Linked DNA regions of Homo sapiens. The protein of the gene in region 2 interacts with the protein of the main gene of each other region in a biochemical or structural test. Each region holds a gene or a part of one and is shown on either strand. Other genes may lie near its edges. The genes, in order: PDGFA and COL3A1.

Region 1 (15,625 bases), on a different chromosome or scaffold from region 2:
TTTTTTTTTTTTTTTTGGGACAGCTTCTTGCTCTGTTGCCCAGGCTGGAGTGTGGTGGTGCGATCATGGTTTGCTGCAGCCTCGGACTCCCAGGCTGAAGCTATCCTCCCACCTAAGCCTCCTGAATGCTACAGGTGCATGCCACCATGCCTGGCTAATTTTTAAATTCTTTGCAGAGTCGGGGATCTCGCTGTGTTGCCCAGCCTGCTCTGGACCCCCTGGGCTCAAGTCAGCTGAGGATTTGGTGACAGCTGAGCCTGCTTTTCCTGGAATATGGGGTCACTGAAATGATGTTTGAGGATTTAAGTTTTGGGGCTACATTAGTAACCATTCTTTAACTTTAGAAAAGAATTATTTCACACCCCCGCCCCCCACTGTTGTGACTCCTAGGCCCCGGAGGGAGATGGGGCGGCGGGGAGAAGGTTCTCCGGGAAGGACTTTGCAGCCAGCCGGGTCGTTTCCTCGTCACACGACCGGGCACTTTAGACCCATAACTGGGACTTATCTTGGCCTCTGGGGACTTGGTCCTCTGAGGTGCTGGGTATTGAGTAAGCAGATTCCACATCTTACTACCCGGGATCTCCAAGGCCACTCACTCCCCTTTTGAAGCCCCAAGATTTTTCCAGGGCCCTGGGAGTGCTTGTCTGCGGCACTCTTCTGTCCTCAGGATATTTACCGCCGGGGGGTCAGGGAAGGAGGGGAGGGGAGGGCCTAACTCAGGCCTCCAGGTCCAGGTGTGGCTGGGTCCCCCTGGCATGAGCCCCCCTGGCATGAGCCCAGCACCATCCCCTCTGTCCTGTGTGCCTCCCTGGGGCGCAGTTTCTGCCTTTCGGTGGGCCTTGGCATCCTCCCTGGTTATATTTTGGAGGCCCTTGTGAGCTCTGAGTCCGGGATGCCTGTGGTCTTGTTCTCATTAGAGATTCTCATGTCAGTTCTGGGTGCTGGGGGAGGCTTGGAGGTACGGGGAGAGGCTCTCAGCCCATGGCTCAGCCTTGTGCAGCCCCTGCCCTTCCCACCCTGGCCTGTCATGGGGTGAGGATAGGAGGGCTTGGCCCTACAGGGCAGTGTTCTCTCCCTCCCCCGGCCCCCTGAGGAGGCTGGGTGGGGTCTAGAGGCTTCCAGCACCCTCTGGCCAGTGCAGTGTTGGGGGTGAGGGCCAGTTCCCCGCTGGGAGTGGCCCCTGCTTTGCTCTGTGCAGTGGTAGAGCCAGGACCAGGGCTCTCCCTCTGGGTCTCATCTGCCGGGACAGGGTGTCCTAAGGCCTCAGGGCTGTGTCCTGCAGCAGAGCCTGGCGGCCCAGTTCCCACCTCCTCAGACCCAGGCCCCCTTCATGTTCCCGCTTCTGGGAGGCGTCTTCTCCCTGCCCACCCATCCGAGGGTTGGAGGAAAACATCCGGCTTTGGACCCAGGGGGCTTTGGCTGAGGGGACAAAGGTCAGAGGGAACAGGAGGCCCATTTTGGAGGCTCAGCCAAGAGACCGGTCCTGCCGCTGCGGATGGAGGCGGCTGTCAACCTGGCGAGGAGATGGGCCCCAGAGCCTCAGACTCTGTGCCTGTGAGTGGGCATGGATGGGGTCAGCTGAGGTCAAAGGGGTTGGGGCTGGCCGGGAGGGGCCCCCAAAGTCTGTCCACCCAGGATGGGCATGGCATCCCCCATTTCCAGTTTTTATGCCTTTCCGGTCAACATTCAGAGGTCTCTTGTTAGAAGATGGATGGTAGTGAAGCTGGGAGTGTCACTGCCTGGCACAGACCCTGCTGGGATCACCAGGATGTGACTGACCGGCAGCCCTGGGGGAGTGACTGGCCGGGGTCCCTAGCTGGGTGGGTGTTTCCTTGCACTCTGCCTGGCACAGTTAGCTCTTGGTGCCTGGACGCCCGACTCTCCCCCAGACCCAAGCCTCGGGGGTAGGACAGGAGTGTGGGCCTGAACGTGGACCATGGGGATGAGATGCCAGCCCGAGGACTGCAGGGGTCTAGCCTGGACGGAGCTGGCTCTGAGCCCACCTTGCTGTGCTGGAGGCTTCCAGAAGGTGTGTGCTCACCTGGTGCTTGGGATGGGCCTCTGCTCCCTGGAACAGAGTGGCTGGGGTGTTACGGGTGAGAAGCTCCCAGCCACGACTCTGTCCACTCTCTGGGGTCTGGTGCAGGAGTCTCTAGGTGGGCGGAGTGGAGGTCCTCTTGAGCCAGGCTGGGCAGGGGCCTCTTACACGAGCTTGAGGTCTGGGCATTGCTTCCATTCTTAATGGATATGGGGGCAGTGCTGAAGGAGGCAGGATCTTCTTTTTTTTTCTTTGTTATAAAGACAGGGTCTTGCTTTGTTGGCCAGGCTGGTGTCAAATTCCTGGGATCACAGGTATGAACCTCCTCCACGCCCGACTTGAGGGATTTTTTTTTTTTTTTTGAGACAGAGTCTCACTCTGTTGCCCAGGCTGGAGTGCAGTGGCCCGATATCAGCTCACTGCAACCTCCACCTCCCGGGTTCAGGCAATTCTTCTGCCTTAGCCTCTCGAGTAGCTGGGATTACAGACACTCACCACCACGCCTGGCTATTTTTTGTATTTTTTTAGTAGAGATGAGGTTTCGCCATATTGGTCAGGCTGGTCTTGAACTCCTGACCTCAGGTGATCTGCCCGCCTCGACCTCCCAAAGTGCTGGGATTACAGGCGTGAGCCACCGCACCCAGCTGGGGTCCTCATGACCCAAGTCAGCATCTGGATTGAGTGACATTCCAAGTCTCTGTCGAGAGACACCCAGGTGGGGCTGTGGGGCGGTGGGGCCAGGGCTCTGGACTCTAGGCTTTCTTTCCGTGAAAGAGGTGAGAAGGAGTGCAGGCTAGGGATGGAGATTCAACGCTGTGTGACTCTGGGCAAGGGGCTTCCCTTGTCTGTGCTGTGTGTTCTCATCTCTAGAATGGACCACGATGGTGTCCTCACAGGGTAGCTGTGAGGGTTACAGTGACGGGCACGTGCGGTCCAGTCAGGTGTCTTTCATGGCTAATACTCTGTCTTGGAGCCTTGAAAGGGTCAGGCCGTAACCTGGAGTTGGGGTGGGGTCCCCCGCAGGGAGTGGCTGTCCCAAGCCCTCCTCAGGGGGTCTCTGCAGCTTCTGGGCTTTGTAGCAGTAGGGACTCGGCATCCCAGGTCTAGAGGGGTGACGGCATCCCTGGGTTGTAGTCTTGGGTGAGTTCGCGCCGGGAGTGTTGAGGTGGGGCGGCTTACGACGCAGATGAACTCAGCCGTGGGGAATCGGAATGTCTGGTGTGATAAGGTGCAGCCCACATCTCTGGGACGGAAAAAGGGGAGGGACATGGGGACCCCCCCCATCACTTGGGCTTCGGCTTGGGGCCTGGGGGCCGGGGTACCCCCCGTGGGGGTCCTGAGGACATTGTAGTCTGTTCTTTGGACTTGGCCTTCTTTTATGGAGGAGGTTTTTGTGAGAATCCAATATTCATTTTGTGTTCTTGGGAGAAAAATGTAGCTATTTCCTGGCCAGACAGAGGTGGCGGAACGGCCCGGAATCCTGGCATACTCAGAAACAGGTGCAATCATCGCTGTTTGTTTTTGTTTGATAAAAACGGGCTTGTCTGAGGAGGCAGTGGGTTCCCAGACGAGCGGCCGTGCCATGTGCCTTTCGCACGGTGCCCAGAGGGGTGGCATTTCTGTTGTGTCCTGGGAGCCCACGCGCCCGCGGTGGCCGGCCATCTCGAGTGGTTGAGAGCGAGCCTGCCCCTCGCCTGGGCGTCTGGTGTCTGGCCAGACGGGCCTGCGGTCTCTGCCGAGCCAGGCCCTGGTATCTGCCCTGCCGAGGGAACTAGGTGAGGCTGCTTGTTGACCAAAGAGGCTGTGCCATCCGGAGGGTCAGGGCCGGGAGCAGAACAGGGCGCCCTGCCCGAGCCCATCCCCACGAACCCAGATTTCAGAGCCCACCTGCCCCATGCCTCACTTGGCCACCCCTGCAGAGGCTGGGGGTGGGTGGGAGCAGCAGAGTATGGGTGCTTCGAGCCTGGGAGATGGCAGGGTGTGAGGCTGGTGCTGTTCCTCCTGCTGGGACCTGTGTCCAGGGCCTCCAGGGGAGGGGAGGAAGGAACTCGGTCCCTGCTGAGGCAGGAGGGGGCTGGGCCTGGTTTTGCGCACTGGGATCCCTAGTTACTTACTACCTGGGCAGTTCTTGACTCAGGGAGGGCTGAGGACATGCTTGCAGGGCTGGGGGTGGCTGAGGTCCCAGGTGGCCCTGCTGCTCCTCTTGGGGCTTTGCTGCAGTTCATCCTCGGGCCGGGCCTCTCCGACCCCAGGCCCTCAACAGGAGGGTGGCTCTAGACCCACTCTCTGCCTGTGGTGGGTGGGTGGTGGTACTGTGCTGAGCTTGGGGACCAGGGGGTGGGTTGGTTTTGGGGCTCTGGATTAGAATCCACGCCAGTGGCAGCCCACTCTTGAAGGCTGGCTTTGTCCTCGTTTCTGGGGCCTTCTGCATGTGCAGCCTCATTTATTCCTCAACTCCTGGGTGGGTGTGATTGGTCTCCGTTTTACAGATGGGAGGTGGAAGTGTGTGCACGGCCTGCGGAGGCCTCTCTCTGGAGGATTCTGTCCTGGGGAAAGGGGCAGATTGCCGCGGGAGTGTGGAGGCTGATCTGAGGCCTCCCGAGTGGAACGGAGCCCCATGTAGGAAGCGGCAGTGTCCTGGCCGCTTTCTCTCACGCTTTGTGACGTAGCGAAACCTCCCAGGCCAGGTCCTGTTTCTGAGCTGGCTCCTGACCCCAGGCGCCCCACGCCCTGCAACTGTTGAGCTCATACTTGGCTGTCTGCTCACGCCCCAGGCAGCCCAGACCACTTCACACGCCTGCAGGCACCCTTTGCACTGTGGGTTAACCATTAACTCAGCCTCGGACAAGCCTGGTCCCCAGCGCCTTAGGGACCGGCTTACCTTCGGAGCCTGCCTGGTCCCAGGGTGCAGAGCTGACCTTCTCCCTGGGGGCCCTGCTGATGCCCAGTCTCCAGAGTCTGGAGTCCCCCCTTCCCCCCAAGAAGGTTGGGAAACATTCCCCTCCTCCCTCCTTCACCCTCCTGACTGCCTGGGAGGCAGGGCCACTGGGCTGGGGGCATCTGGCCTTGGGCTGAGGTCTCCTCATTCACCCAGCAGCGTGCATTCCCCCACGCCCCTGTGCTCAGGGGGTGACCCGGCCTCCGTTTCCTTTCTAGCCTCAGTTTCCCCATGAACCGTGAGGGGTGAAGTGGGTGATCCATAGTGGCTGTTCTTGCATTTAGACCCTGCATGCGGCAGGGCTGGTTCCGTGGGCACAGATGGAGCGCCTGCTGGGTGCTCAGCTCCCCAGGGCCTGGGAGGGCAGGAAGGTGGTGGCTATTCCCTGGTGTGTGCTCCAGGGGGCAGGTGGGACAGCCTAGCAATTAGGGACAGGCTTAGTTAGAGCTTGCCTGCGCCTCAGTTTGTTCTGTAAATGGAGGTGCCAGTCTTGCCTCCTTGTAGCATGGTTGGGAGGATGAAATGAGTGCTGGGGTTTGGGCTGGGAGAGCCAATACTCTACTCATGCAGTCCCTGGCTGTGTATTAGGGGTCTGTTGATGCCAGGCGTGTGCGTGCTTGCACTCTGTGTGTGTAGTAAGATTCCCACGATGGGGCCCCTGTGTACATTACACATGCATGACTGGTGGGGGGTGGAGTTGCCTCCCCATGACAGGGTATGTGTGTGCATTATACAGGTGTGTGTGTGGGGTGGAGTTGTGTTCCCGTGACAGGGCCTATATGTGCATTATGTGTGTGTGTGTGTGTGTGTGTGTGTGTGTGTGTGTGTGTGATTTCTTGCCTCTCTTGTTGAATGCCTGAAGCTCCCCTCTCTGGCCTGGACTGGGCCATTGTCTGCCTGCAGCTCCCCGGGGAAGGGGCTGTGGAGGCAGGACCCCCATGTTGTGGTTTTGTGCCTGGAGAATTGAGGGCAGGCGTGGCTCGCAGACAGGCAAAGTCCAGTCCGAAGAGGGGAACCCAGCTGAGGTCTGGTTCGCTTTTGAGCTGCCTGTGCCTGATAGCCACGGCCTGCTGGCCTGTGCTCCTCCTGGATCATCTTGTGTAGCCTCGGTGATGGCCCAGGATCCCTGGCCCTGGTTTCCGAGGTCAGGCCTCTCCGAGCCCAAGGAGAGCCTCGGACCTGGGGGAGCCATGAGGGGACCCTGGGTATGGGTCTGCTGGCCCTGCTGCCTGGGGCCGGCGGGGAGGTGGGGCCCTCATCAGGCCAGCAGCTGGGATTATCATCTGGACGCTCAAGTCCACAGCAACCTTGGGCTAGGATACAGCCACGAACCCCCCATTCCTAGGCCATGGCTTTAAATTTTTTTTTAATATTAATAGAGACAGGGTCTTGGTGTATTGCCCAGGCTGGAGTGCAGTGGTGTGATACCAGCTCACTGCAGCCTCAAACTCCTGGGCTCAAGCGATCCTCCTACCTCAGCCTCCCAAGTAGGCTGGGACTACAGGTGCCACCATGGCTTGCTAATTTTTAAATTGTTTTTAGAGGCAGGGTCTTACTATGTTGCCCAGGCTGGTCTTGAACCCCTGGAGTTAAGTGATCCTCCCGCCTTGGCCTTCCAAAGTGCTGGGATTACAGGCGTGAGCCACCATGCTCAGCCTGGCTTTTAAAATGTATTTAAAAACAACGTGATCATTTGAAAACATTTCCCAGCTGCACATCCACACACAAGCAAACACTTTCCCTGGCCACCTGCACCCCAGAACTCCCAAACTTCCACACCTTAGCAGTGTGCATCCTTCAGCCCCCCCAGGCACACGTGAACCTTTGGGTTTATTTTAAACAAAAATAGGATGAGTCTGCTAAATACCATGCTCCAACACCAGGCGCGGCGGCTCTCACTTGAAGTTCCAGCACTTTGGGAGGCTGAGGCAGGAGGATCACTTGAGTCCAGGAGTTCAACATCAACCTCGGCAACATAGCGAGATCTCATCTCTTCCACACAAAAAAAATATTTAAAATTAGCTGGGCATGGTGGCCTGTGCTTACAGGTGGGAGGCTGAGGTGGAAGGATCACTTGAGCCCAAGAGCTTGAGGCTGCAGAGGCTATGATTGGCCTAGGTGACAGGGTGAGACCCTACTCAGAAAAAACTAAAACACACACACACAAAACTGCACTGCAGCTTGTAGGTTTTTCACCTGGTACTGCTACACTCCCCACCACAAGGTAGTGTTTCTGGGAGGAGGTCAGGGGTCAGGCTGCTCTCTCCTCCCTCTCAGCCTGTCCCCGGCTCCCAGCACGTCGTGATGTCCGAAGCTCCATGCAGGCATTCATGGCCGGGCTCTGTTCTCTCTGGCAGGTGGCCAAGGTGGAATACGTCAGGAAGAAGCCAAAATTAAAAGAAGTCCAGGTGAGGTTAGAGGAGCATTTGGAGTGCGCCTGCGCGACCACAAGCCTGAATCCGGATTATCGGGAAGAGGACACGGGTGAGTGGCTGCCTTCGTCGGCATCGGTGTTGGAGAACAGGTCTTCAGAGCCTTGCTTTTGGGGTGTTAGGTGGCCCCCTTGAGCGCAACGCTTACTGCTGTGAGCATCTGGGCTGCTGTTGAAGGATTCGTTGCCCTGCTCCCGGGCCAGATGCCTGCGGGGGAGACGGATCCCACACCTGCAGGTGTCCGGTGGGGAGGGTGGCCCAAGCTGCGGCACTGGCAGGAGAGGAGATTCAGGTCTCACTGAGAGGGGCTGGGAGTGCATAAGACACCCAATTCATTAGTGGGCTGCGGGGCTGAGCTGAGAAGAATCTGCAGAAGGGCCTCCTGCCAGGGTGGGCGGGAGGAGCAGGTTCGAGGACTGCAGTTGCCCTGGCTGGCTGGGGTCTCTCCTTCACCCCGCCACGCGGACTCCACCCAGGAGCAGAATGGCTTCTGTGCCCTGCTATGGCTGGGCCCTGGGAGCATGAGGGGACTCAGAAGTTTCTCGGTGCCAGGGTGCTGGCCTTCTCTTCTGGAAAGATAAACAAATGCCGTAGGTATTTGTTGCTTCAGTTCTTCACCCCGACGGCCGTCCCTCGGCCCACTCACCGCCCTGCCCTTTTGTTAACAGGAAGGCCTAGGGAGTCAGGTAAAAAACGGAAAAGAAAAAGGTTAAAACCCACCTAAAGCAGCCAACCAGGTAGGACTGTCTGCCGGACACACTGAGTCCTGCAGGGCGGGGAGGTGCAACTGACTGATCACACCAGCAAATCACGCTTCCTGTCTCGCCGGGTGCGGCGGGGATGTGGCCCTGATTGGCCTTGATGGTGTCTGCTGGGCTTGGGTCTCCTTGCTCCCCGTCCGCTCCTGCCTCGCAGAACGCCCTGGCCCGTGGCTCACTCCCGCTTGGGAGCCTGCCTCCAGCTTTGTCCTTCTCTTTGTCGTTGATTGGGGATGCAGGAGCATTGCACATGAATGGAACAGGTTGGGCGACCTGAGCAGCGGTGGGGCAGCTCTGAGCGCCTGGCCACTCTGGGATCACCCACCCCATTTGACAGATGAAAAAACTGAGGCTTAACTGAGATTACAGATAAGGACTGTTGGAGGCTGAATATATCTGGAAATCCTTTATAAACGTGCAGGGCTGTTGGCTACTGTGTTGGAAATTGCATTTGGCTGCTAGTAACACCAGACAGCACAGGGATTGAGATAAGATCGAGCTTCATGACTTTCATCTAAGGGTGGGATTGCAGAGCAGGGAGGGTAGTCTTGAGGTATCATCAGTGTCCGCCTTCTGTCTGGCTAGTGGCATCCATCTGCAGTTGCCTCATGGCCCAAGGTGGCTGCTAAAGCTCCAGAAACCACATCTGTGCTCCAGGCTGGAAGAAGGAGTGAGCGGGGGGGGGGGGGAAGGGCAAAATAACACCCTTAGAGAGCTATCCTGGAAATCCCACCCAGTGACTTTTGTGTTTTTCTCAGCTGCCATCCCTCCACTGCAAGGGAGCTTGGGAAATGTCTCCTAGCAAGACATGTCGCTTCCCAGATGGAGGTGGGACCTGGGCAGCCGCCATCATCACGGAGGAGGCAGTTTCAAGCCTTCCTGGTCCTTGGCATTGGCCCGTCTGGCTTGGGAAAGTTGGAGCCCTGTCTGGCCTGGTTCCCCCTCCTGGCACGTGGGACTCCATGGTGGCCAAAACAAATAGTTTCTTTAGAAGAGAGGAGGATCTCAGAGATAGGGTGTCTGAGAACCCTGGCTCCTGTTTGCAATGTGGGACTTGGGCCTGCGGGTGAGGTCCATTCATGAGGAGCCTCTTGGGAGGAAATTGTCCACTTGGGCGGGTCTTTGAAGCAGTCCAGGACTGTTGGTCAGCCTTGGCTTTGTTTGCTGAAAGTGTGGCCTGGTGGGTGGTTTTGTGCCTGCCTGTGGGTCCCATTTCTACAGAGCGTTAGGCTCTGGCCTCCATGGGCCTGCTGGTGACAGACCCCATGGTGAGAGGCTGGCACTCCTGTTGTCCCATGCCTGGCTGGTACTCATGTTCAGCCTATAGGCAGCCCACGTGTTGGAGTGTGCGATGGAGAGGCCACATGGGATGTGGAAGAATTGTTCTTAAACGATCAGCATAGGTCTGCCTGGGTGCAGACTCTTCTGTCTGGCTGGTGGCCTCCATCCTCAGGGTTGTCTCATGGCCCAAGGTGGCTGCCAGAGCTCCAGAAATCACATCTAAGCCCTAGGCTGGAAGAAAGGAAGGCAGAGAGAAGGGCAAATGAGCCATTCTTGGCCTCAGTTTCCCCCATCTGTACAATGGGAGAATGGGGCTTGGTCTCTAGACATGTTCTGTGAGATGCTGTGAGCCTAATCCCAATTCCTGTCAGGGTACTGCAACATGGCCAATGTGGCAAATGTGATTCTGGAAATTTCTTGAAAACTTGAAATCCCTGTGTGCCCCTGATTGGGTTAAATGTTTTCACCCTGTTTTCCTCCTATGCAGCCATGTGTGTGCTGGGTGGTTCACTTGGTCGGTGGTCTCAGTGTCTGTCTTTCCCTTCTCCCTGCAGATGTGAGGTGAGGATGAGCCGCAGCCCTTTCCTGGGACATGGATGTACATGGCGTGTTACATTCCTGAACCTACTATGTACGGTGCTTTATTGCCAGTGTGCGGTCTTTGTTCTCCTCCGTGAAAAACTGTGTCCGAGAACACTCGGGAGAACAAAGAGACAGTGCACATTTGTTTAATGTGACATCAAAGCAAGTATTGTAGCACTCGGTGAAGCAGTAAGAAGCTTCCTTGTCAAAAAGAGAGAGAGAGAAAGAGAGAGAGAAAACAAAACCACAAATGACAAAAACAAAACGGACTCACAAAAATATCTAAACTCGATGAGATGGAGGGTCGCCCCGTGGGATGGAAGTGCAGAGGTCTCAGCAGACTGGATTTCTGTCCGGGTGGTCACAGGTGCTTTTTTGCCGAGGATGCAGAGCCTGCTTTGGGAACGACTCCAGAGGGGTGCTGGTGGGCTCTGCAGGGGCCCGCAGGAAGCAGGAATGTCTTGGAAACCGCCACGCGAACTTTAGAAACCACACCTCCTCGCTGTAGTATTTAAGCCCATACAGAAACCTTCCTGAGAGCCTTAAGTGGTTTTTTTTTTTGTTTTTGTTTTGTTTTTTTTTTTTTTGTTTTTTTTTTTTTTTTTTTACACCATAAAGTGATTATTAAGCTTTCCTTTTTACTCTTTGGCTAGCTTTTTTTTTTTTTTTTTTTTTTTAATTATCTCTTGGATGACATTTACACCGATAACACACAGGCTGCTGTAACTGTCAGGACAGTGCGACGGTATTTTTCCTAGCAAGATGCAAACTAATGAGATGTATTAAAATAAACATGGTATACCTACCTATGCATCATTTCCTAAATGTTTCTGGCTTTGTGTTTCTCCCTTACCCTGCTTTATTTGTTAATTTAAGCCATTTTGAAAGAACTATGCGTCAACCAATCGTACGCCGTCCCTGCGGCACCTGCCCCAGAGCCCGTTTGTGGCTGAGTGACAACTTGTTCCCCGCAGTGCACACCTAGAATGCTGTGTTCCCACGCGGCACGTGAGATGCATTGCCGCTTCTGTCTGTGTTGTTGGTGTGCCCTGGTGCCGTGGTGGCGGTCACTCCCTCTGCTGCCAGTGTTTGGACAGAACCCAAATTCTTTATTTTTGGTAAGATATTGTGCTTTACCTGTATTAACAGAAATGTGTGTGTGTGGTTTGTTTTTTTGTAAAGGTGAAGTTTGTATGTTTACCTAATATTACCTGTTTTGTATACCTGAGAGCCTGCTATGTTCTTTTTTTGTTGATCCAAAATTAAAAAAAAAAATACCACCAACAAAACCCGTGGACGTGAGAAGCGTTTTGTGGTACGTTTTTCTAGCACTGAGTCTAGACCCTGGTTGCCAGGTCATGCGGTGCTGTGTTGGGTGGAAACGGAGGTCAGAGCTTTCTGGGTGGGGTCCCTGGACCTGCCTCCATGGTGGCACCCGTGGGATGCCTGCCTACCTCGGACTTCAGCACCTATGGGGGTTAGGCCGAGGACATCCTCCTGCAGGCTCCACTCCCTGGAGCGGATGAGGAGTGTCAGAGTAGCCAGAAGACCATGAAGAGTTTCATCCAAGAAGGGAGCCCACCTGTCTTGGTGTGTCCATGTGCAGCACTCACCATACCCTGCCCGGGCTGGCCCCTCCACCACCTCCAGGCCCACGAGACAAACCATCGAGGTTGCTTTCAATCTTGACCCCGCGTTCTTCGAGGACCATCTGTGGACTGGCGGCCGGCTGGCGTCTGTTGTCCATGTGCTGCTGGAAGGTTCTTACGAAGGATTATCTTCAACAGCTCATCTTCATGGTGCTGTTTTCAGCCTCGTCAGGGCAGCCTGGAGGCTGGAGGGGAAGTGCAGGGCCAGGTGGTTGCAAGCTGGTTCCTGTTCCTTGGACACCTGCTGGGGCCCTGCCTGGGCCTGTGGGCTGCTGTCCAGATCTGCACCGGTTACAGCGCCTTGCCCAGGAATGTGCATTGGATGTGACGTGTGGCAATGTAACATGTATTTGTTTCCATGAGATGCTGGCGACAATGCTCCATTTTTCTTTTTTGTATAAAGTCGTCTGGTGTAATACCGTGTCCATTAAAGTGATGGGGCAGAAAAGCCAGGTGGGGAAGAGAGAATTCCATAAGAATTCCATAGGTCTGGAGCCCAGGGGTGGCTGAGGTAGCAGTAGAGGTGGGAACTCAGGCCTGCTTTCTCTCCCTACTTACTCCTTCCCTCCCTCACTCCCTCCTTTTCTCCCTCATTGGTTCATCCATGCAGGCGAGGGCCCTAGTGCCAGCCCCTCCTGTCCCGACATGGGGAGAGCCCTGGGGAGGGGCAGGCAGAGTGGAGGCCACTCCAGCCAGGAAGGGCTGCAGTGTGGCGGGGGCTGTGGTCTGAGGCTGGATCCTTTCCGAGCCTCTCCACCCACGTGGGCCTGCAGCCTTTGTCGCGGCTCTGCCCTGCGTTCCCGGGATTTCTGCTCCTGCCTGGGCCCCCTCCCGGCCCCTAGCCCTGGGCTGCACCTGGATCTGGGCTCAGGAAGGTGACTTTCTGCCCAGGGTCAGCTCTTCATGTCTTGTGAGCCCTGTGACCTTGACCGAGGGGCCTCCATCTGCATGTCGGCGTGCACATCTGTGAAACGGAGCTGCAGCTCAGGCAGGGTAAGGACGCCTCGCCATTGACTCACCTGGTGCAGGTCTTGTCTGCTGCCTCCTCCTGCTGGGACTTCACTCCAGCCTCTAGTGTTTCTAGGCCCCAGCATGGCAGAGGACAGAGCCCTTGGGCTCAGGGATTGCTGAGCGGCGATGGTGCCGCCTGTTAAAACGAGGTTCCTGCACCTGCCTGGACACCTGAATGCACCTGCTCACACCGTGCCCTTGCCAGGGGTCATGAGAGCTGGGGCCCAGCCTTTGCTGGGCTTCTCCTTTAGCTTGGGGGTGTTTCCTTTTCTTCACCCAGGCCTCTGTGTCCTGGCTGTGGAGGGGGTTGGAACTGGCTGGGAGAGTCAGTGACGGCAGGTGGTCTCCAGCCGTGGGTCCCTACAGCTGTCTTGGGATTCCCAGCGGTAGGTGAAGCCGAGGCCTGGGTCTTTGCCTGGGTCCAGTGCGCAGAGCAGTTGCTGGGCTGGGCCAGGCTCGGGGATCCCGTTCTGCAGAGAAGCCCTTCTGGTTTGTGCCCTCTTGTCAAGCACAAGAAGCCACGGCCCTCCTGGGACCTCCTTGGTTTTTTTGGGCTTTTCATACTTAGCCATGGGTTCCTCCAAGAATTCTAGGGGTGGGAACTTGAGGGCTTGGCTCCCATTTTAAAGATGAGTGAGCTGTGCCCCTGGCAGGCCCGGAACGCCTAGGGGGCCCCAAGTAGAAGGGTCGCAGGACACAGAGAGGCAGGACTTGTGCTGTGGCCGGGCATCCAGGGGCCCTTCCATCTCCTGGGCCTTGACTCTGCCCCACCCCAGGGGTGGGCTGGGCCCCAGACTCCGGAGCAGCATTGGGGCGGGAGCTCCCCAAGTGCCTGCAAACAGCAGGGCCAGCCAGGCTCTTCTGGGGTTGTGTCCTGGGCAGGTGCCCAGCCTGGGACTGAAGCTCCTTGCCCTGCACCTATCACCAAAGGGCCAAGATTCACAGAGATTTGCCTCTGCATGCTCCCTGGAAATGGGGTCAGCAAGGACCAAGATACAGACCCCAGGGAAGATGGCGACCTCCAGGTCCAAAAGGAAGAGCAGGTATTTGAACTCAAGTAGCAAAAATCACAGAATTTCCTGCACCCCACAGACCCCCGTTCCCTCACAGAAGCCCCCCATCCTCTCACAGAACCCTGGTCCCCTCGTAGATCCCCTGTCCCCTGACAGATCCCCTGTCCTCTCACAGATTCCCCCGTCCCCTCACAGATCCCCTGTCCTCCTCACAGATCCCCCATCCCCCTCACGGATCCCCCGTCCCCCTCACAGATCCCCCGTCCCCTCACGGATCCCCTCCATCCCCCTCACGGATTCCCCCGTCCCCTCTGTACAGCCGTTTCCAGGAAGTCCTGGTCCTGAGGTCCCCGGGTTTCCGGGATGGGCAGGAGGAGGGGACACAGGCCCAGTCCTGAGAACGGGGACCCCAGGCTCCCGATACGTGGACGCGGCCCGGGGCCAAGGCTGGACCGGAAGTGGCAGGTTCCCGCCGCCTGTGGGTTCCGCCGCTTCCCGGGGCGCCCGGCGAGGGTGACAGACCCCGGGAGCGCTGTGACCGCCACCCGTGCCCAGCGATGAAGCTGAAGGTGGCCTCCTCCGTTTGCAGGGAGAATTTTGGTTCCAGGCTCCGGCGCCCCGGGGGCGGGCGGGCTAGGAGGGTCGGTGCGGGCGAAGGAGGCCTGGCCCTTGCGGCTCCCGTGCCGGGGACCCTGGAGGTGGGCGCGCCTCGGCCCCCAGCCCCAGCGGCCGACGCCGGGCTCCTCCCACGGCCCAGCCAGCGCCTCACAGTCCGGTGGCCCTGCCCCTGCGGCCACGCTGGCCGGCTCCTGACGCCTCAGAGCCTCAGTTTCCCCCCTAGCCGTCGGGAGGCGGGTGCGCCGCAGGATGAACCCGTGAGTGGCGCTGAGCAGGGTGGGCGGCGGCTGTGGCAGCCCGGGAGGACGTGGGTCCCCAGAGCGCCGAGGCGGGAGGAGAGTCCCGAAGAGCATCCGCGAGGGGTCGCCAGCCGGGGAGAGTGGTGGGGCCTCTGAGCCGGGAGGGGGCCGAAGCGTCTCCCACGACCTCGGCGCGGTGCCTGGTCTCCGCGGGGTCCGGCTTCCCGGTGCCCCCTTACCCTGCGCTTCTCCAAGCTGACAGCCCCAGGTGTGGGGCCTGGGGTGGGGCCTGGCATGGCCTCGTGCCTCCTACTCTTAGGTCCAGGGGTGCCATGAACCACCCCCCAGCCCTGCCGCGGGATCGTCCCCCAGTGTCCAGGGGACCCGCCTGCCTCGCCCAGCCTTTCTTTTCTTTTCTTTTTTGAGACGCAGTCTGGCTCTGTCGTCCAGGCTGCAGTGCCGTGACACGATCTCTGCTCACTGCAACCTCCGTCTTTCGGGATCAAGTGATTCTTCTGCCTCAGCCTCCCGAGTAGCTGGGACTACAGGCACTTGCCACCACGCCGGGCTAATTTTTTTGTATTTTTAGTAGAGACAGGGTTTCACCATGTTGGCCAGGCTGGTCTCCAACTCCTGGCCTCTGGCGATCCTCCCGTCTCGGCCCCTCAAGGTGCTGGAATGAGAGGTGTGAGCCACCGCGCCAGGCCCCACCTTTCACTTTGGCTCCATCCGGAGTCCTGGGATCCGCTGGGTCTGAGTCCCATGTACCGTTTCTGTTGTGGGATAGATTTCCATCAGAAGCACAAGACAGAAAATGGGGGAGGACGGGGTTTCCCGAGGAAATCGGGGTGCCGTTCATAGATGAGGCTACTAAGTGGGATGTTGGGGGTTGCCTTGGCCTGGGTGCCCCAGAGGCAGAACCTGAAGGACAGAGTTGTGGGCATATGGTTTACGGGAGGGCAGATACCAGCAATACAGGGAGGGGCTGGGGTGTGAAATGTTCAAGTGGGAGACCTCACTGAATCAGCTCCGGGCTCCAAATCCTGAGACCTGGAGCCTGCACACA
Region 2 (7,756 bases):
TCTATTTTATGGTAAAATTCAAACTCTATATAATAGTTATCTTTTAAATAATTTGTCTTTGTTTTGATAATATTTCAAAACTAAATGTTAAATCTCAAATATCATGGCATAAGAAAATTAAGAAGTTAATAGTTGACAAACAAACAGTGTGTATTCTTTTTGTTTCTGAGTTTTGAATAATGAAACGTAACTTACTGGTTCCCCAGGTTTTCCATTTTCTCCTGGAGGACCACCTGTACCAGGCAAGCCCTAGAAAGAATCATATTTGTATTAGGTAATTACCTCAAACATGGCTTATAGAAAAGCTTCTCATATGTACACATGTTTCTGCAAGATATTAAAAAAAAGTTCCAGTGGTCTTGTAGGGGTAGAAACGTTGTGCCACTCAAAATCCAGTGACACATACGTGATAATCATATTTTACAAACCCATTTTCATCTCTCTCTGTTCTTTCAATTGCTACACGTAAAAATGTATTGACCAGCATGGCAGGATAGACTTGGCTATATGGATTTATGTTATAATAAAAATAAGTGTAACCAAATAGAATTATTTGAGTTTCATTAATTCTTTTAAATAACTTATTAATGTGCTCTGGAACGGACATGGAAGATATGCCTACCTATTAACATTGCCTAAAATTTTATTTCCAGATGAAAGACAGAATCACAAGTTAAGCTTCAGATAAATTATAATCTATTAGGGACACAAAAAAATTTGACAGTCAGATATGCCGTGACATTTAAATAACAAGTTCTTACTTGTAATCCTTGTGGACCAGGGGGTCCTGTGTCTCCTTTGTCACCACCAGGCCCCTAGAAAAGTATAATGATACACTCTGTTGTAAACATCCTTTTATATTTAGTCTACAGTATCCATTTCAACAGGCCTGTTGCTTAATTATAAAAGTAGTGATGTGAAGAAAAGGGAGGACCTGGACCCAAAGCACACATGTACACTCTAAACTCAATGCTAGCATTTAGCTAGATAACTAGGTCAGCAAGTTTCATCATTGCTTTGGTAAACTGTAACAACATGGTGTCAGAGATTATGTAATTTTTGAAGCATTCTTCCTGCCCCACCTCCACCCTATTTTCATCTCCAATTTTATATGAGTGAACTTACAGTAGGCCCTGGGGGTCCCTGAGGTCCAGTTTCACCATTCTTTCCAGGAGGACCCTAAAAACAAGAACAGTTAGGGAAGTAGAAATAATACAGATTACAGAGAGAAGTCAGAAGGTTGGAGATGAACGCATCTATTAGAAGGCTAGAAATAAATTGAGGAAAGCTACGTACCTGAGGGCCAGGTCCTCCAGGGCCACCTCGTTCTCCATTCTTACCAGGAGCACCCTAAAGAAGAAGTGGTCGGTATTTACTAATCCTCAAAGGGCAATAACTAATCATATTATTGTCTCATATATATATGTCTCATATATATATGTCTCATATATATATGTCTCATATATATATGTCTCATATATATATGTCTCATATATATATATACACACACACACATACATATTTTTGAGACTGAGTCTTGCTCTGTCGCCCAGGCTGGAGTGCAGTGGCGCAATCTTGGCTCACTGTAGCCTCTGCCCCCCGGGTTCTAGTGATTCTCTTGCCTCAGCCTCCTGGGTAGCTAGGATTACAGGCACATGCCACCATGCCTGGCTAATTTTTGTATTTTTAGTGGAGACAGGGTTTCACCATGTTGGCAAGGCTGGCCTAGAACTCCTGACCTCAGGTGATCTGCCTGCCTTGGCCTCCCAGAGTGCTGGGATTACAGGCGTGAGCCAGCGCACCCAGCCTGTTTCATATTTTTTATCTGCCTGCTCCATACACACACATACAACCATAACCAATTATATATTTAGCTCCCTTCCTACATGCAATTTGATTTTCATATACTCCTCCATGCTTTGAAGAGGAGACTGAGTTTTGACCATTTCTTTACTCCATATGGAAAATAAAAGCCTTCCAGTCAAATATTTATTGAAGAAATTAATGAAGGAACTCACATCATTTCCTTTAGGACCGGGGAAGCCCATGACACCAGGCTGACCTCGGGGACCAGATGGCCCAGGAGGACCTGGTCGACCACTTTCTCCTTGACTTCCCTAATAAGAAAAAATTACATTAATAAAGGTTTGATAAAGAGAAGATTAAAGCATGCTATATATATAGTATGTGTGTGTGTGTGTGTGTGTGTATATATATAGATATACATATACATATATATATATACACACACACACACACACACACTCAAGGATAGGCCAACATATACATTCCATTTTAACTGGCCTTTTAAAATGAGATTTTAAAAATGTACATACGGGAGGCCCTGGTTTCCCATCACTTCCTGGTCCTCCTGGACTTCCGGGCATGCCCTGAAGTAAAGAAGTCAGTTGTTAGGTGATTTAAAATGAAATAATAAAAAATTACTACATACACTATTTGTATGATTTTGATATTTTCACTTACATGTGAAGCCTCAGATTTGCACATCTTTTTTCCTGTCTATAAAGTATCTAAGGCAAGTGTTCTATCTTCTCTTCTCCTTGAACTATCTCGGCTTAAGTTTACTTAAAAGAATTTTGTTTTGTTTGGTGCCTTACAAAATATGTAATCTGATTGATTTAAGTTGCTTTTGATCTGTCTTCATTTGTCTTGCCTTTCTTCTGTCTAAATTAAAGTGTCATTCAAACAAATGTTTCTCTGTACCCTCATTCCTGGACCTCCAGGGACGCCATCTCTGCCAGGTTCTCCAGCAGCTCCTCTGGGCCCTGCAGGGCCTGGAGCACCACGCTCTCCAGCAGGACCCTAAGTAGTGAAAGAAATTTTAAAAAAATTAAAATAGCCTTCACTAACCTAGATAGCAACAATATTTTGGTTACAAAGAGAGGACGTCATTTGAACTTTTAAAAAGGGTTCGTGTGTTGCTGAAACATTTATACATAAAATCAGTTATCTTAGCTTGGATTGCCATATTGAAAAAATTTTAAAGCAACTTTGTGAACATCACATGCTTAATAAAACAGTATTCACTGTGCTTAAAAATATAATTATGTGCAGCTAAAATCAAATATCTTAATGCTATGAAATCATATTTGATGTAACCTTAGAGTTTTCAAAGACTTTTCAGGCATTTTAGTTTACTGTACTCTTGCAACGATGCTCAGATAAATGCTTTCCAATTAACAGATAAGTAAAGGATTCTCATAGAGGGTAAGTAAGTGGCTTTAGTTACAAAGCCAGGAAAGTTGTTGAACAGAGGATGCATTATATTAGGAATTTTTCTTAACTCTAATATATATTCTTCAGATATTTAGGTTTTCATGAATGAGAAATTGTATACAAGAACTGCCCATTTGTGGTGCTAGCATTTAGGAACATAGAAACTAAAGTTATCTACCTTTTCTCCTGGGATGCCATTTGGTCCAGCAGGTCCTCGGAACCCAGGGGCACCCTGAAAATAATGAAAGACAAGTATTTCAGTCCAAAGGATTTCAATTCTTTTTCATAATTCTTGAGTGGCAAATATTTTTATGTCATAGAATGCTTTAAACAATATTTTCACTGAACACTCAACTTAAGAAAAATTGGCTGTCTCACCCTGAAGGTAGTTTTATTTAGATGACAGTGATGCTGCTTTTCTTTTAGATGCCCCATGGAAAACGTACCCTTTCTCCTGCAGCTCCTGGAAGCCCATTTGCACCAGGTTCTCCAGGTGATCCATCCTTGCCATCTTCGCCTTTAGCTCCTGGAACACCTGGAATACCAGCCTCACCCTGAAAAAAAAAAAAGATGGTAAAATAAAGAAATTATGACTGAATTTAGTTCAAAGTTTTTACCTGTTTACTTTCTAATTATGTTGCATTTTTTCAAGAAATAACCAGATCTGTTGCAGTAAAACTTACGCGTTCACCACGTGGTCCGGGCTCTCCTTTGGCACCATTCTTACCAGGCTCACCCTAAAGTATAACAAAGTCTTGGTTGAAACACAGGGAGGATTCGACTAACAAATCATCACCAGTAACACATAATTCAGTTATAAGTTATAAGACAAGAGTGAAGTCAATATAAATTCAACTGAACAGGAGCAAAATTTTGCTATTAATTTTTTGTTGATGGAATTAAACTATACCTTTCAGTCAACAGAGAAAAAACAAGGCAACTTACTGCACCACCTCGCAGTCCAGGAGCACCATTAGCACCGGCTGGTCCTGGAGGACCCCGGGCTCCCATCAGTCCAGGAGCTCCAGGAATGCCAGCGGGACCCTAAGAACAAACCAAAGACACTATATTAGCCGAACTTGAATGTTCTTTTATGAATATCTCACTTAAATATCACAAATCTATTGTCATGCAAAATGCAAAAGAAGCCAGTAATGTGTGGATGAGATAAGGCTGAGGAGTGGGGACAGCTTACCATTTCGCCTTTACCACCAGGACTACCATTAATCCCAGGAGGGCCCTAAGTATACAAAAAACAGATAATGTATTAATAGTAATGCAAATAGTTCGTATATATTTGAAGTTGTTTGTGTGAAAATAAATGTATCGATGAGTGTTATGCTTTGTAGAGATTAAGTGAATCCTCCAACTATAACACAACATATGAAATGTGGTCAAAAGAATCATCATTATCTAAATAAATTAGAGATAATATGTACTTCGTATAAATTATTAAATGATACATAAATAGAAGAGATTTTGAATTTGGTTCTTCTCTGAATTTTTATGATTGGTGATTAGCTTGGGGCACATTCTTGAAAGCATCAGAAAACTAGTCTATCCTCTATTCTTTTATATAAACATAAAAAATCATGAATTCTGGAATAGTGCAACAGTCAAAAACTATCATTTTTACTACTAATCAAATCAGTATGTGTCACAGGAGGATCATTTTAGAGCACTAAGCAACAATTTTTTCAAAGTAATTTTCACTGATAGCCATATTGAAGCACATGCTTTCATGGAGTAAGCATGAAACTATGCTTTCATGGAGTAAGCATGAAACTATGCTTACTCCCTCTCAACTATGATACTTACAGGAGGACCTTGAGCACCAGCGTGTCCCTGAGGTCCAGGTTCTCCTCTTTGTCCAGGGGCACCATTTGAACCAGGAGACCCTGCAGGTCCAACTTCACCCTAATGGTAAAACCTTGTGTAGTCAGTTTCTCTTACCACTTCTACTCACTTAGCCACTTCACCCTTCAGTCCTGTTTAAACACATCTCCCAAAAGTTGGAGTAGTGGGACTCTATACTGCAGGTAAAGCAAGGAATCATTAATCGTAAAGGCAGAGAAAAATGTAACTATGTGTGTGTGATTGCATTATCAGTTTCCTAGAAAGAGTCTGGGGAAAAAAAGAAGGTAGCAGAAGAAATATCAAGATAGTTGAATACTAGGGACAACACCTCTTTTAGAATCAAGAATAGGGCTTTAAAGACATGTATAGATAAAAGCTATCCATTTGACTGATTAAAAAAATCAGTTGCAAGAAGCAATCTAATGCTTTTCTCTTGCCTCCAAGATATTTTTATACCCTTCTATAGAAACACATGTTTACCTTAGCACCAGGGGATCCAGGGAATCCGGCAGTTCCAGGAGGACCAGGAGGGCCCTGAAAAAATTAAATACAATTTCAAGAGCTCTTTTTCAACTAAATGAAAGCTGACATACTAGTAAATAAGTGAGCACATATAAAGTAAAGAAGATATTTATGCAGATAAAAATGATATTCATATTTTATGGATATTATGTAGAGAAACAATGTGGTAAAATAAGAAAAGAGTGAAATCTAAAGTTAGAAATTCTTGGTTTCTCCCTACTTTGCCATGAATTCTGTGACTTAGTGCAGGCTACTTTTCCCTGGGCTTTTGTACTCCAGTCTACAAAATGGAGGTAACATCTATTTTATCCATTTTGTAGGACTCTTTAAAGTGCCATGTCTTACATAGGATATTAACTAACATTGGGAGCACCATTCAAATGTTAGCAGTTGATCAAGCAGAATGAGTGTCAGAACCTAGATTTTGTTTATGGGCTCAGTGTCAGTTTTAATCACAGGAGTGTATATACAATATTAAGTATTGGGGCTACAATATTTTTTCACTTTTTAAATTGTAAAAATGGTCAACAGAGATGCTAATGTGTATATTAGAGATATACATATGCATATATATATACCTAAGAGTATATACATATATAAAATATTAAATAATCCACAATCCATAACTTCTCATTACCCTACAACACATAAGAGATAGAAAGTTACTTACTGGTTGACCATCACTGCCTCGAGCACCGTCATTACCCCGAGCACCCTAAAAAGAGAAGTTTACATCAAATATCCTTTTAATTCTGAATGGCTGGTCATGAGTAATATTTTGACCAAAATTCTGACTCAAGTGAGTTGAGTTTTCTTCAAGTACATTAAAATCTGCTTAATAATTATGTATTTTAAAGTCAATTATTACAATTCTGATATATACAGCAACAATCAAATGTAGAAGGATTGGAGTCTGTGTTTTCAGGACTGAATGCAGATATAATGGCTCAAATGACATATGAAAAGTTAACACAAAAATTCTCAATAGAGATAATAATTGTAAAACAATTATTCATTTCCTTTTAACTATAGCCAAAACTTTATCACAGTATCATTGAGTATAATTTTGTAGGAAGGTCTTTTTCCTAACATATTTTTACAGCCTGAAACTTTACTGAGGCTGTAAAAATCTGTCACTTTGGGTTGTAATTGTGTGATGTTAGCAGCTATACTCACTGCAGCCCCAGGAAGTCCTGGCCGTCCTCGCTCACCAGGAGCCCCTCTTGGACCCTACAGAGTAAAATTGAAATATGGTTTTACTCTAATCTTGACATGTGTAAGAACAGTTGGGGTGGGAGCAAAGCCAGTTTTAGGTAACAATGAGGTTAATAATAAAACTGAAAATTATACATAAGAAACATAATTACCATGGGTCCAGGAGCTCCATTTTCGCCTGGAAGACCATTTTCACCCTAGATACATATAAAATATGTTACTATTTTACAAAAGAGGAAGAAAATATTATATATTTTTAAATACAGAATATTATGGAAAAGTTTATAGAGCCTAGAAAAAGATATACATTTTAACAATATTAATTTTCTGTTAGTATTTTATTTACCAGAAATCTCAATTTCTGTATTTAAAAACTTAAAGACTAAAGTGAAGTAATTGATAAGTTATACTAAGATGCTCAACTATTTCTAATCTAGACTCTTCAAGTTGTCATTTTTCATGGAAGCGTTAATAGAATATCTGAATTGGTTACCATTATTCACACCTAATAGGTAAAATTCAGGTAAATTTCAGAAAACAAGTTAAGGCTCACAATATGAATCTTATATGTAGCTTTAATATTTAATGAATTTACTTATGAAAATATGATTTTTGTTGTGATTTACCTTTAATCCAGGAGCACCTGTTTCACCCTTTTCTCCATTTCGTCCATCGAAGCCCTAGGAAATGTATAAAACCAGCAAAATTATTAAAATCTGTTAATAATCTAGAATGATTGATAAAGTTTACATGGTATTTTTCTAATTGGTCTTCATAACACTACTTGCAAAATTAGCTTAAATAATTTAAAACTTGTTTAAAGGGGTTGAAGATATTTCATACTGATTTTACAACAGGAAAACATGAAAACTAGAAAGTGCAATTTAGTCTGATAAGAAAGTTGCCTTAACTATAGAGTAGCAAA

What was found.
Region 1: the proteins of COL3A1 (region 2) and PDGFA form a complex in vitro, tested with the Homo sapiens proteins (one study listed by BioGRID).

The regions. Positions count from the first base shown.
Region 1 is NC_000007.14:492,951-508,575, reverse strand, and holds the end of PDGFA (platelet-derived growth factor subunit A isoform 2 preproprotein), read left to right. Parts: intron 1-7,333; coding exon 7,334-7,460; intron 7,461-8,076; coding exon of another isoform or gene 8,077-8,132; exon of another isoform or gene 8,133-8,145; intron 8,146-10,001; coding exon 10,002-10,012; 3' UTR 10,013-11,318; downstream 11,319-15,625.
Region 2 is NC_000002.12:188,990,759-188,998,514, reverse strand, and holds part of COL3A1 (collagen alpha-1(III) chain preproprotein), read right to left. Parts: intron 7,512-7,756; coding exon 7,458-7,511; intron 7,029-7,457; coding exon 6,984-7,028; intron 6,847-6,983; coding exon 6,793-6,846; intron 6,332-6,792; coding exon 6,287-6,331; intron 5,629-6,286; coding exon 5,575-5,628; intron 5,155-5,574; coding exon 5,056-5,154; intron 4,478-5,055; coding exon 4,433-4,477; intron 4,282-4,432; coding exon 4,183-4,281; intron 3,975-4,182; coding exon 3,921-3,974; intron 3,792-3,920; coding exon 3,684-3,791; intron 3,470-3,683; coding exon 3,416-3,469; intron 2,886-3,415; exon of another isoform or gene 2,824-2,885; coding exon 2,725-2,823; intron 2,391-2,724; coding exon 2,337-2,390; intron 2,118-2,336; coding exon 2,019-2,117; intron 1,351-2,018; coding exon 1,297-1,350; intron 1,180-1,296; coding exon 1,126-1,179; intron 816-1,125; coding exon 762-815; intron 250-761; coding exon 196-249; intron 1-195. UniProt on the Homo sapiens protein: Collagen type III occurs in most soft connective tissues along with type I collagen. Involved in regulation of cortical development.